3 linked regions of the Homo sapiens genome follow. The protein of the gene in region 3 interacts with the protein of the main gene of each other region in a pairwise test. Each region holds a gene or a part of one and is shown on either strand. Other genes may lie near its edges.

Region 1 (3,969 bases), on a different chromosome or scaffold from region 3:
CAGAGTCTGGGAGGATTTCAGGTGTGAATCTTCATTGTCCTCAGGAGGCTGTGTTCTCCTGTGTGAATGTGGGACAAAACACATGCGGTGTTGCCAACCAGGGAAGCTCACCCAGTTAAGGAAAAATTCCTGTGAATCACATTAAACCAGAAATGAAGCCTTTATTCAGGATTGTTGTTACAGGGGAGGGAGACTGAGCCCAGCTCCAAATATAGTAAAGACAGAGGGGGAGTCACAGCCAACACCAGGGTGGGGGCGGGAGATGGAACAGGACTGACAGGAGACGCCAGAGTGGGGGGTTCCTGCTAAACTGGCCTAACAGGATTCTCGCCAAAGGCAGGTCAGACCCTCAACCACCAGTGGTGGGGGTGAGGAGCATGATCAGATAACAAACGGTGCTCAGACAGCAAGCGGGGAGGACCCTCCCTAAACTGATTTGGGGAGATTCTTGCTGAGCCAAGGTGGTGCAAGTCCAGAAAGCAGTGGGTGAGTGTGGAAGGCCAAGGTCGGCGCCTAGTGGAGAAGAAGCTCTGAAGAGCCCAGCTGGAGTTGGTCAAGGAGAAAGTCCTTCTTTCTCAACCCATGCCTTAGTGTCCAGAGTATCTGCTGGGGCTGGATCACAAGCTGCCCTCATGGCTAGAGTCTCCAGCCCTTCCCTGAGATCTCACACCTTTAGTCCCCAAGTCCTCTGGAAGTCAGGAAAGACACCAAATAGCCCCAAACCCTATCATCCATCACATCGCTATACTGTCCCGTGGCCAAATCACCAGGCAAAGAAAGATGTTCCTACCAGGCAGGACATTCCAGGGGCCTGGAGATCACTTCCCAGGAGCTGAGGACAAAGGGAAGGCCTCTCTTTGGGTAAAGTTCATGCTTCACTTTCCTGCCATCCTGGTAATAAGGTCTCTTTGTCTCACTCTCACTGCTCTTTGTTCATCTGCAGAGTTTTCCCTCTCCAAACACTTTGGCAGTCACGGTGTTGACCTGCCCTTGAGTGAGGAGGCATCTTTATCAAACACCTACCATGAAAGAGCATCTGAGGTGCCTTTAAGATATTTATTTCCATATGGAATAAGTACTGAGGAATATCTATGATGAACAAAATGTGTTTGAGTTTGAAAGATAATTAATTCCATTTGTAAAATTTGTTTCTATTTGATTGATAGTGAAAGCTCTGCAATTTACACAGGATAGAGATCGCATGGAGCTCATTTCACAGATAGGGAAACTGCATTTCTTAATCCTTTAACCTTTCCTTGTGCAGGGATGAGGCAGATGAGCTCCGTAAAGCTCTGAACAAGCTTGCAAGTCACATGGTCATGAAGGACAAAAACCGCCACGATAAAGACCAGCAGCACAGGCAGTGGTTTTTGAAAGAGTTTCCTCGGTTGAAAAGGGAGCTTGAGGATCACATAAGGAAGCTCCGTGCCCTTGCAGAGGAGGTTGAGCAGGTCCACAGAGGCACCACCATTGCCAATGTGGTGTCCAACTCTGTTGGCACTACCTCTGGCATCCTGACCCTCCTCGGCCTGGGTCTGGCACCCTTCACAGAAGGAATCAGTTTTGTGCTCTTGGACACTGGCATGGGTCTGGGAGCAGCAGCTGCTGTGGCTGGGATTACCTGCAGTGTGGTAGAACTAGTAAACAAATTGCGGGCACGAGCCCAAGCCCGCAACTTGGACCAAAGCGGCACCAATGTAGCAAAGGTGATGAAGGAGTTTGTGGGTGGGAACACACCCAATGTTCTTACCTTAGTTGACAATTGGTACCAAGTCACACAAGGGATTGGGAGGAACATCCGTGCCATCAGACGAGCCAGAGCCAACCCTCAGTTAGGAGCGTATGCCCCACCCCCGCATGTCATTGGGCGAATCTCAGCTGAAGGCGGTGAACAGGTTGAGAGGGTTGTTGAAGGCCCCGCCCAGGCAATGAGCAGAGGAACCATGATCGTGGGTGCAGCCACTGGAGGCATCTTGCTTCTGCTGGATGTGGTCAGCCTTGCATATGAGTCAAAGCACTTGCTTGAGGGGGCAAAGTCAGAGTCAGCTGAGGAGCTGAAGAAGCGGGCTCAGGAGCTGGAGGGGAAGCTCAACTTTCTCACCAAGATCCATGAGATGCTGCAGCCAGGCCAAGACCAATGACCCCAGAGCAGTGCAGCCACCAGGGCAGAAATGCCGGGCACAGGCCAGGACAAAATGCAGACTTTTTTTTTTTTTTTTTTTTTTTTTTGAGATGGAGTCTCGCTCTATCGCCCAGGATGGAGTGCAGTGGCTCAATCTCGGCTCACTGCAAACTCCGCCTCCCGGGTTCACACCATTCTCCGGCCTCAGTCTCCCGAGTAGCTGGGACTACAGGCACCTGCCACCACGCCCGGCTAATTTTTTTGTATTTTCACTGGAGACGGGGTTTCACTGTGTTAGCCACGATGGTCTCCATCTCCTGACCTCGTGATCTGCCCACCTCGGCCTCCCAAAGTGCTGGGATTACAGGCGTGAGCCACCGCGCCTGGCCAAAATGCAGACATTTTATTAGGGGGATAAGGAGGGCAAGGTAAAGCTTATGGAACTGAGTGTTAGTGACTTTGGCATTTGTGTAGCTGAGCACAGCAAGGGAGGGGTTAATGCAGATGGCAAGTGCACCAAGGAGAAGGCAGGAACACTGGAGCCTGCAATAAGGGAGGAGAGAGGACTGGAGAGTGTGGGGAATGGGAAGAAGTAGTTTACTTTGGACTAAAGAATATATTGGGCGAAGAATAGAGGGGGAGCTTGCAGGAACCAGCAATGAGAAGGCCAGGAAAAGAAAGAGCTGAAAATGGAGAAAACCAGAGTTAGAACTGTTGGATACAGGAGAAGAAACAGCAGCTCCACTACCGACCCCCCCCCAGGTTTGATGTCCTTCCAAGAATAAAGTCTTTCCCTGGTGATGGTCTCTCGCTCTGTCTTTCCAGCATCCACTCTCCCTTGTCCTTCTGGGGGTGTATCACAGTCAGCCAGTGGCTTCTTCATGATGGTGGTTGGGGTGGTTGTCATGTGACGGGTCCCCTCCAGGTTACTAAAGGGTGCATGTCCCCTGCTTGAACCCTGAGAGGCAGGTGGTAGGCCATGGCCACAATCCCCAGCTGAGGAGCAGGTGTCCCTGAGAACCCAAACTTCCCAGAGAGTATCTGAGAACCAACCAATGAAAACAGTCCCATCGCTCTTAGCCGGTAAGTAAACAGTCAGAAGATTAGCATGAAAGCAGTTTAGCATTGGGAGGAAGCACAGATCTCTAGAGCTGTCCTGTCGCTGCCCAGGATTGACCTGTGTGTAAGTCCCAATAAACTCACCTACTCACCAAGCTGGACTTGTTCGAGTCATTCTTTGGTCTCTCAGCTCCTTCTAAGCTTTGGGGGCCATCAGTCTCAAGTTTTTCTCGTAATGGTGGTGATGGTGGTTGTGATGGCAGCAGAGTGGTGGGGGCCTTGGCAAGTGGTCGGTGCTCTTCCAGACCAGGGGACACCGATGGACCGATGAAGTTCCAGGGGAACTTGAAGTGCTGTGTTGGAAAGAGGTTAATTTGGGAAGAAAGGAAAAATGAAAGGAGATGCCAGGAACAGGTCAAGGAAGCTTGAGGTGTGTCCAGGAGTTCAACCCTGCTTGTGGTCATGAGACTTCACCCCTCTGAGCCTCAGTTTCCTCATCAGCTGTAGAAGGGGGCTGGAAAAGGTGATATCTCAGGTCCACCTTGCTCTCCCCATCTTGTGTTCTGGAGACTTGAGTCAATCAGCACTGACTGATGGCTGTGACTTTGTGGTGCCGATGGAGGCTCCCCTGGGCTCTGGGTGCCTGACTTAACCTTCCTCATGATCCTTCTTCCAGGGTCTCAGGGAGCGAAGTTTCAAGACCCCTTCTGCTCGCTCACTGGACTCTCACTTTCCCAGCTGGTCATTTCCCTGAGACCTCAAAACCCCAAGCCCATTGGGGCACTCGG
Region 2 (3,650 bases), on a different chromosome or scaffold from region 3:
ATATAAAATAAAATACTTCTCAGCAAGTTTTCTAGCTAGATATGTCTTTTTCTTTCCTTTGAATCTCGATAGCATTTTTTGAAAATTATCTTATGGCACTTATATCTTGTCTAATCTTTTATTTTTTATTTATTTTTAATTGACCTTCCAATGTAGGATTTTAATCTTTTATTATTTTTTAATCTAATATTTTAATTTCTTGTGCATTTATATCCCTTATTACACTGAGATTCCCTGAGAACGAGGAGTAACTATGTTTGAATTTCACTTCTGATACTTCTTAGTTGCATGATCTTTACCTCTTTGAACCTTAGTTTCCTTACCGGTGGAAAGTAAAGATTATTAGGCTGGCCTTGTAGAATACAGATAAAATGATCAGTAAATGTAGATGATAGTTTTCTGTAATCCTTCTATTTTACTTAAGTGTTTGTATCTTCATGAAGAAAAATGGGAAAATAGCATTTACCCTTTTTGATCAAAAGCCTCTTAAACAATTTAATTTGCCATTTGCTTCATACCTGCCCCCAGTCTGGCTAGGCTGGGACATTCAAAGACTCTCAAAAAGTTCATTTATGATCTACATGAGGACAAGCCAAAAAGTTCAGCCCAGTTTTTTTTGTGTCAGTTCCCATGTCACATTGTGTTTTTGAGAACCCCAGATGTGTATATGGGATTGCAAATCACCAGGAACAAGGAATTAAGTACACATTTTGAAAACTGGATTTGGTCTTTCACATATCAAATGCTTGGCTAGAAATAATCAGTGTATACACTGGGAAAATGGCACTTTCATATTTTTCTAATGACTTTAAAATGAAAGTATCCTACCTTCACCTCTCAAAATTCTTCCCCACCTGGTTACCCCTCAAAAAGGTACACAGTATCTAAGTTGGGAATGCATCACTAGAGTTCTGAGACTGAAATCTGATGTTTTTACAGAGGAAGCCCTCTTAATTCCAGCTGTGTCTATTTATAGCATGTTGTGCTATAAATGCATAGCTCAGAGGTGAGGCTTAAACTCTAGCAGGCTTATAAATGAACCCTTAGTCATCTACCACTTCTGGGAATAAGAGAAAAGAAATTCTCACTCACTAAAATCTCAGGAAATTCATTTCCTTCAAGTTTCCCATGTATTACTTTAGGACTGAATCCTTCCTACCAGTTTTATGGGGAAAGGGACAAATAGTGATATTTTGGTTAATACACTTGTGGACTTTTTTTTTTTTTTTTTTTTTTTTTTTAGATGTAATCTCACTCTGTCGCCCAGGCTGGAGTGCAGTGGCGAGATCTCGGCTCACTGCAAGCTCTGCCCCCTGGGTTCACGCCATTCTCTTGCCTCAGCCTCCCCAGTAGCTGGGACTACAGGTGCCCACCACCATGCCTGGCTAATTTTTTGTATTTTTAGTAGAGACGGAGTTTCACCGTGTTAGCCAGGATGGTCTTGATCTCCTGACCTCGTGATCCTCCGGCCTCGGCCTCCCAAAGTGCTGGGATTACAGGCGTGAGCCAATGCACCCGGCCACTTGTGGGTATTTTGCTGGTTGAGAATGTTCCTAAAAATTAGGGATCCTATGATACTTGGTTGTAAATACTACTTTGCCATAGTTTAGAGCAATGGTCCCCAACCTTTTTGGCACCAGGGACCAGTTTCGTGGAAGACAATTTTTCCACAGGAAAGGGTTGGGGAACATGGTTTTGGGATGAAACTGTTCCACCACAGATCATCAGACATTAGGTTCTCATAAGGAATACACAACCTAGATCCCTCATATGTGCAGTTCACAATAGGGTTTGTGCTCTTATGAGAATCTAATGTTGCTGATCTGATCCGTCTGTGGCCTGGGAGTTGGGGACTCCTGGTTTAGAGTATTTTTTTTTCTTTTATTACCAAAATGGCAGTAGAATAAACTTTTAACTAATCAAAGAAGGGTCTGAATATGGACATAAGCCTGTACATTTGAATTTTTGTATTGAACATTCAAGTTGGGCTTACCTCCAGGAAACTCACATACATTTTCTAAAATTGCTTTTTTACTTTAAAAGCAAAAGTTACTATAAAAATTAGAAATGATAGCTCAACAAACAGAAACATTATCTATACTTTATCTCTGGATGTTTTTTGCCTTGATATACGTCTTTTAAACCTTTTCTAGCCTGTATTTTTTCAATAATGAAAGAATGGTATACACAGTGATTTAAAATCTTCTCCCTCCCATCCATGTTATGAACATTTTTTCATATCAGCACATATTCTTTATCATTATTAAAGATTAATTAATTAATTCCATTTTATATGATGAAATCTGTTGTGTCCAAATTTCTCACTTAGAAACTGCTGCATTGAATATATATTTAGCAGTGTTTCTGTACCTGCTTATTTCCTGTGTAAGTTAATTTTTCTGAAAAGATGAAATTATACAACTCTTAAAATTCTCTCATTCTGAAGGTATCTTTTGTTACTACTCCTAATAACTACCATTTATGAATTCCTATGACATGTTAGCCACATGTAGCTCCTCCTTACATACATGAGTATTTATAATGTTTACAAAAATCTGTGAAGTAGGTGTTAAAATATGCCTCCTGAAGTTCTAAAGTAATAAGGCTAAAGACCTTGTAGGAAGAAACAAAAGAAAACCAAGCAAACCATGAAACAAATGAAATTTGTTGTGTAGTAATTTTTGTTGGGTAAGTTTCTGGAAAGGCAGTTAAACATTCTTTCCAAGATGACAACACAGGCTGATTAGTCCAGAGGGCTGTAGTTGTCCCCGTTCCCCATCAGCTGATTTACTTTCAGATCTATTAACCTTAGCACTACTGGAAATCATGTGGAGTAATAAATCCACTCATCACTGAGATTTTATTATTGTAAAGTTCAACAGATAACTGGATTTCCTCTGCTGAGAATCTGACTGTGAGTCATAAGCATTATCCTACACAATAAGAAAGGATGGGCTAAGGAATTACTGAAATACCTAAACTGCCACTTTTTAACGGACACTTTTTTCCTTCTGCCTTCACAGAGTGCAAATAAAACACTTCATGTTGTAAATTGATGAGAGCAGTCCTGCCTGGATGGGGCAAGACAGAAAGGCTGGAAGTTTAGTCTCAAAAACACATGCTATTCAGTTGCAGCAGCACTTTTTAGGGGTAACAGTAGGCCAAATTGAAAAGTCTTGGCAATTTTTGAACTTTCTTCTTAAAAACATATGTATTCAGGATTAAGTGTTACTTTTGGCCACTATGATTCTTCATCAGTGATTCTTTGTCAGGATTGGCAAACTTTTCCTGTAAAGAACCAGGAACTAAATATTTTGGGCTTTGCAGTCTGTTGCAACTACTCAACTCTACTTTTGCAGTGCAAAAGAAGCCATAGATAGTACCTACATAAACAGCACAGCTGTTCCAATAAAACTTATGGACATAAATCTGAATTTCACATAATTTTCATGTGTAATGAAAAAGTATTCTTTTGCCTTTTTAAAATCATTTAAAAATATAAGAGCTATTTCATAACTTGTGGGACATACAGAAACAGAGTCAGCTAGATTTGGACAATGGGCTGTTACACGCTGTTCCTGTTTTATGTCAGCCAACTATTTATTTGAGGAGGAAGACTTGCATAAATTAAATAATGCATTTGATCTTTC
Region 3 (3,650 bases):
GGAGCCAGGCGGGGGCAGGTTCGAGGGAGGGCAGTGGGTCAGTTGGATGGACACGCGGGGTTGAGGAGCCTGTGGGATGTTGGCTCTGGGTCTGGAATGAGGAGAGACGCCTGGGCTGGAGGGATAGAAGTAGAGCCTACCAGCATGACAACAGTGCTGGAATCGAGGGTGGTGGGTGAGGCCTCCACCCTGGCGGGGTCCAAAGACAAGCAGCCAGGGTGGTGAGGGCAGATCCGGGCCATGTGTGATCAGGGTGGGTGGGGGGCATCCACAGGGTCAGACCCTCCTGAGAGGTCACACTCCATGAGATTACAGAGTATCCATTAGTGTCTCAGGCAACGTAGCCAAACCCTGTCCCCAGAGAAGGGATCCAGGTGACAGGTGAGGGGAAAAAATGAGAAAGACAGGTCCACAGCCGCAACAAGATGTGGGATCAGGAGGGGCTTTTATTTATGTATTTGTCCTTGTTTTAAATGGGAGAGACAGGGGCTTGCGTAAATGCAGTAGAGAAGGCACCAGGAGAGATGTCGAGGACGCTGACAGGACGATTTTGGGAAAGTCTATGAAGAGGAGGGGGGACCAGAGCACAGACGAGGGGATCAGCCTTGGCACGGGGAGACCCCTCCCCACTTCAGTAGGTGGAAGAGGAGTGGGGTGGGAGGAAAATGCTGCTGGGGGTAGGGTTCAGGGGTAGGAAAATTGAAGAAGTTGTTCCAATGGCTCCTGTGTTCTTGTGACTGAGCAGACAGGAGAGAGTAGGGTGGGGAAGGGGCAGGAAGTCAGAGGTCTGAGGACACAGAGAAGGGGTGAGACATCCAGGGGAGAATGAGAGGTGAGGAGGCTGAGCAGCACGTGGTCTGGGAGTGCAGCCGGGCCTGTTCACCAGGAGGTGCTATGGGCCAGTACAGGGAGGGCCACAGATCCTTTCTTCTGGGGTTTTGTCAGGTTGGGGGTGAGGGGGGCTGAGAGATGGGTGACAGCACGGAGGAGCAGAGGACCACGGGATCCACGCTGGGTTGGAGTGAAGGTGGGAGCTAAGCTGAGGGGAAGGCACAGACCCAAGAGGGCCCAGGAGGTGTCTGCATTGAGCTCACAAGAAGGCGAGGGCTGTGGCCAGAAAGCGGCGCTTCTGAATCTGTGATTTCACCATGGACCTGCTTCAGGCAGGGCCCCAAGAGAGGTGGAGGAGAGGTGAGGGCTCCTGGAGACAAGTCGGGGAAGTGAAAACAAGAGGCCGGGGCTGTTGGGGCTGCGAGGGCTGGAGACCCAGGCTCTTAGAGCAGGAGGAGGGGGTGACCCGCCTTAGGCCCTGGAAGGTGAGAAATGGGGTGGCTTCCTTCCAGAGCCCCAGAGTTTGAGGAGGAGACTCTGTGGGAGTGGGGCTCCTGTCTTGGGGGACACCATTCAACGCACACCAAGATTAAAGCTAGCAGGACCTCATCTCATGCCCACAGCGGCCAGCCTTGTCATGGGTGCTGGGATGCTCCTTCCCCCACCTCTCACCCTGGGAAACCTGCAGCCTGGGACTCCAAATGGAGCCATGGGCTCTGGGTTGCCTAGTAGCCCTGAAGAGGGAAGGCGGGTATTTCTCAGTGGTCTCTGACATCCCTGTCCCAGCCCAGCACTCCCTGAAGCCATTGCATCTGTCTGTGCAATCAGCCTGAGCCCAGGGTCCTAGGCCAGGGCCAGAGTCACCCATGTGTTTATAGGTACCTCTGTGCTTCTAGTAGCTGTCATAACTCCACCTGCCTGCACAGAGAAGGGACCCAGGGCAAAGAAAATACTGATGCAGAATCAGAGACCCTCCCAGTTAGAAGGATTTTCAAGGTCATCCAGTTTACCTTGCTACTGACTTTGCTGGGGAAATGGTGGCCCAGAAAAGCCATGGGACCAGCCCAAGGTTGCAGAAGTCAGGTGCCGATAGGAGAGGAAACACCAGAGGTCCACACTCCAAGTCCAGGCCCCTAGGAAGTGCTACACCTGATCATTTCCTGTGGCTGAGTTTCTCTCCCTAGTCAACCACCTTACCTACCTTGGGACAGCCAAGAGAAGAGGGAGCTGGGGGCTGCACTGTGGTGGGTGGTAGGAAACGGTCTAGAAGAGCTGTAGGTCTTTGGCAGGTGTTCCTCTGGGGCATATAATGGGGAGATGCCTACCATTCACCCACCCAGGCCTCCAGCTCTGGCTGCAAAGCAATGATGGAAAGTGAGCCACCCTGGTCTCACAGCTGCTGCAGGTCAAAGCCCAGGCTCCCCTCTCCCCACATGCCTACTTCAAATAGACATGGGAGTTAGTTCTTCTGCATATTTAACCAAAGTCCCTCTTATTGCAATCCAAGCCTCTTTCTCTAGATTGGGAAGAAGATAGTCATTGCATGTTAAGTCTTTGTTCCTCTGGGAAGGGAGGGTACAGGCATGATTTTCAGAGCTCCCTCCTCAGCTATGTGGATCCCAACAAGATGCAGGCTAGCCTGGGCATTATGGGGTGTTTTGAGCCCTGTTTGGGACCCATGGCACCAAAGCCTTCAGCCAACTTGCCGAGAGGGCCTTGTTTCCGCATTCACTCTCCCAATTAATTCTCCCTAACAAGGTGCTTCTTCTGCCATACAGGGATCATGTCTCACATCCCAGAAGCCAGTGGGATTTGCCACAATAAGTCTGGACTTGCTTGGGCTGACCCAGCCTTGCCAAAAGCCACCAAGGTTGTCAACAGAAGTAATCACTGGAACACCAATTAACTAATCAGGGGACTCGGAGGTAGAATTTAGGAACTAGTTCCTAGAGTGGCTGGCCTGCAGTGATTGTTGTGGAGTTTCCAACTCACTAACCCCAGAGATTGAGGCAAGGACTTCAATCCTTCCTTCAGTTCCTGGGGGAGAGTTTTATCTGCTCTTTTCAAATTAGTAGTTCTGCTTATTAAAATGGTACTGAGGGTCAAACTGCAAATAATAATAATGGCTACCATTTGCCAGATATCTATTGGACCAGGCAGCATGCTGGGAGCTCGGTGTACCTTACTGTATTAAGTCTTCCTAATGCCCCTTAAGTCTAAAACATTGAACATCAAGAGATGATTCCTAGACAGTCAGATGGCTCTGGGGAGAGAGTTTGGCTGGAGATACGGAACCTTCAGTGTATGGGGGGGAGTTGAAGCTGAGAAAGGGGATGTGGTCCACTATAGGAGGAAGAAAAACCATCAAGAAGGGGAAGAAGCAGCCAAGGGCACAGGGAGAACCCAGATGGAGTAACTTCATGGAAGCTGAGGACTTGGGCGATTCAAAGAGGAGGGGCTGTCTCCAGAGTGGGTGAGTGCAGAGGGGACTAGGAGTGGAGGAGACTTAGGTGGCATAGCTAGACATGGCAGTCTAGGAGGCAACATGGTATTCAGTTTCTTCTTTGTTCAGATGATTGAGCTCAAAGATGGGGAACTGTGGGAGAACAGCAAAGAAACTGTGAGATGGAGGTTGGGGGGCTTGGAGAGAGGGCAATGATGGGGAAGGAATGCCCAGAGCCCAAGGCGGGAAGGCATGGCCTCTATGGAGTCCCTGGGTCCAGTGAGTAGAGGGGGCTACCTGGCTGTGGTGGAGAAATGGGGGCCTGGATCCTGAGAATTCTCCAAGGTAGGTATCAATATTCCTTGTTTACCAATGA

The links.
Region 1: the proteins of SFXN5 (region 3) and APOL2 interact in binary tests that used the Homo sapiens proteins (3 or more experiments, as listed by UniProt).
Region 2: the proteins of SFXN5 (region 3) and STOM interact in binary tests that used the Homo sapiens proteins (3 or more experiments, as listed by UniProt).

The regions. Positions count from the first base shown.
Region 1 is NC_000022.11:36,225,576-36,229,544, reverse strand, and holds the end of APOL2 (apolipoprotein L2), read left to right. Parts: intron 1-1,264; coding exon 1,265-2,141; 3' UTR 2,142-3,336; downstream 3,337-3,969.
Region 2 is NC_000009.12:121,360,167-121,363,816, forward strand, and holds part of STOM (stomatin), read right to left. Parts: intron 1-3,650. UniProt on the Homo sapiens protein: Regulates ion channel activity and transmembrane ion transport. Regulates ASIC2 and ASIC3 channel activity.
Region 3 is NC_000002.12:72,956,634-72,960,283, reverse strand, and holds part of SFXN5 (sideroflexin-5), read left to right. Parts: intron 1-3,180; coding exon of another isoform or gene 3,181-3,304; intron 3,305-3,650. UniProt on the Homo sapiens protein: Mitochondrial amino-acid transporter. Transports citrate. Does not act as a serine transporter: not able to mediate transport of serine into mitochondria.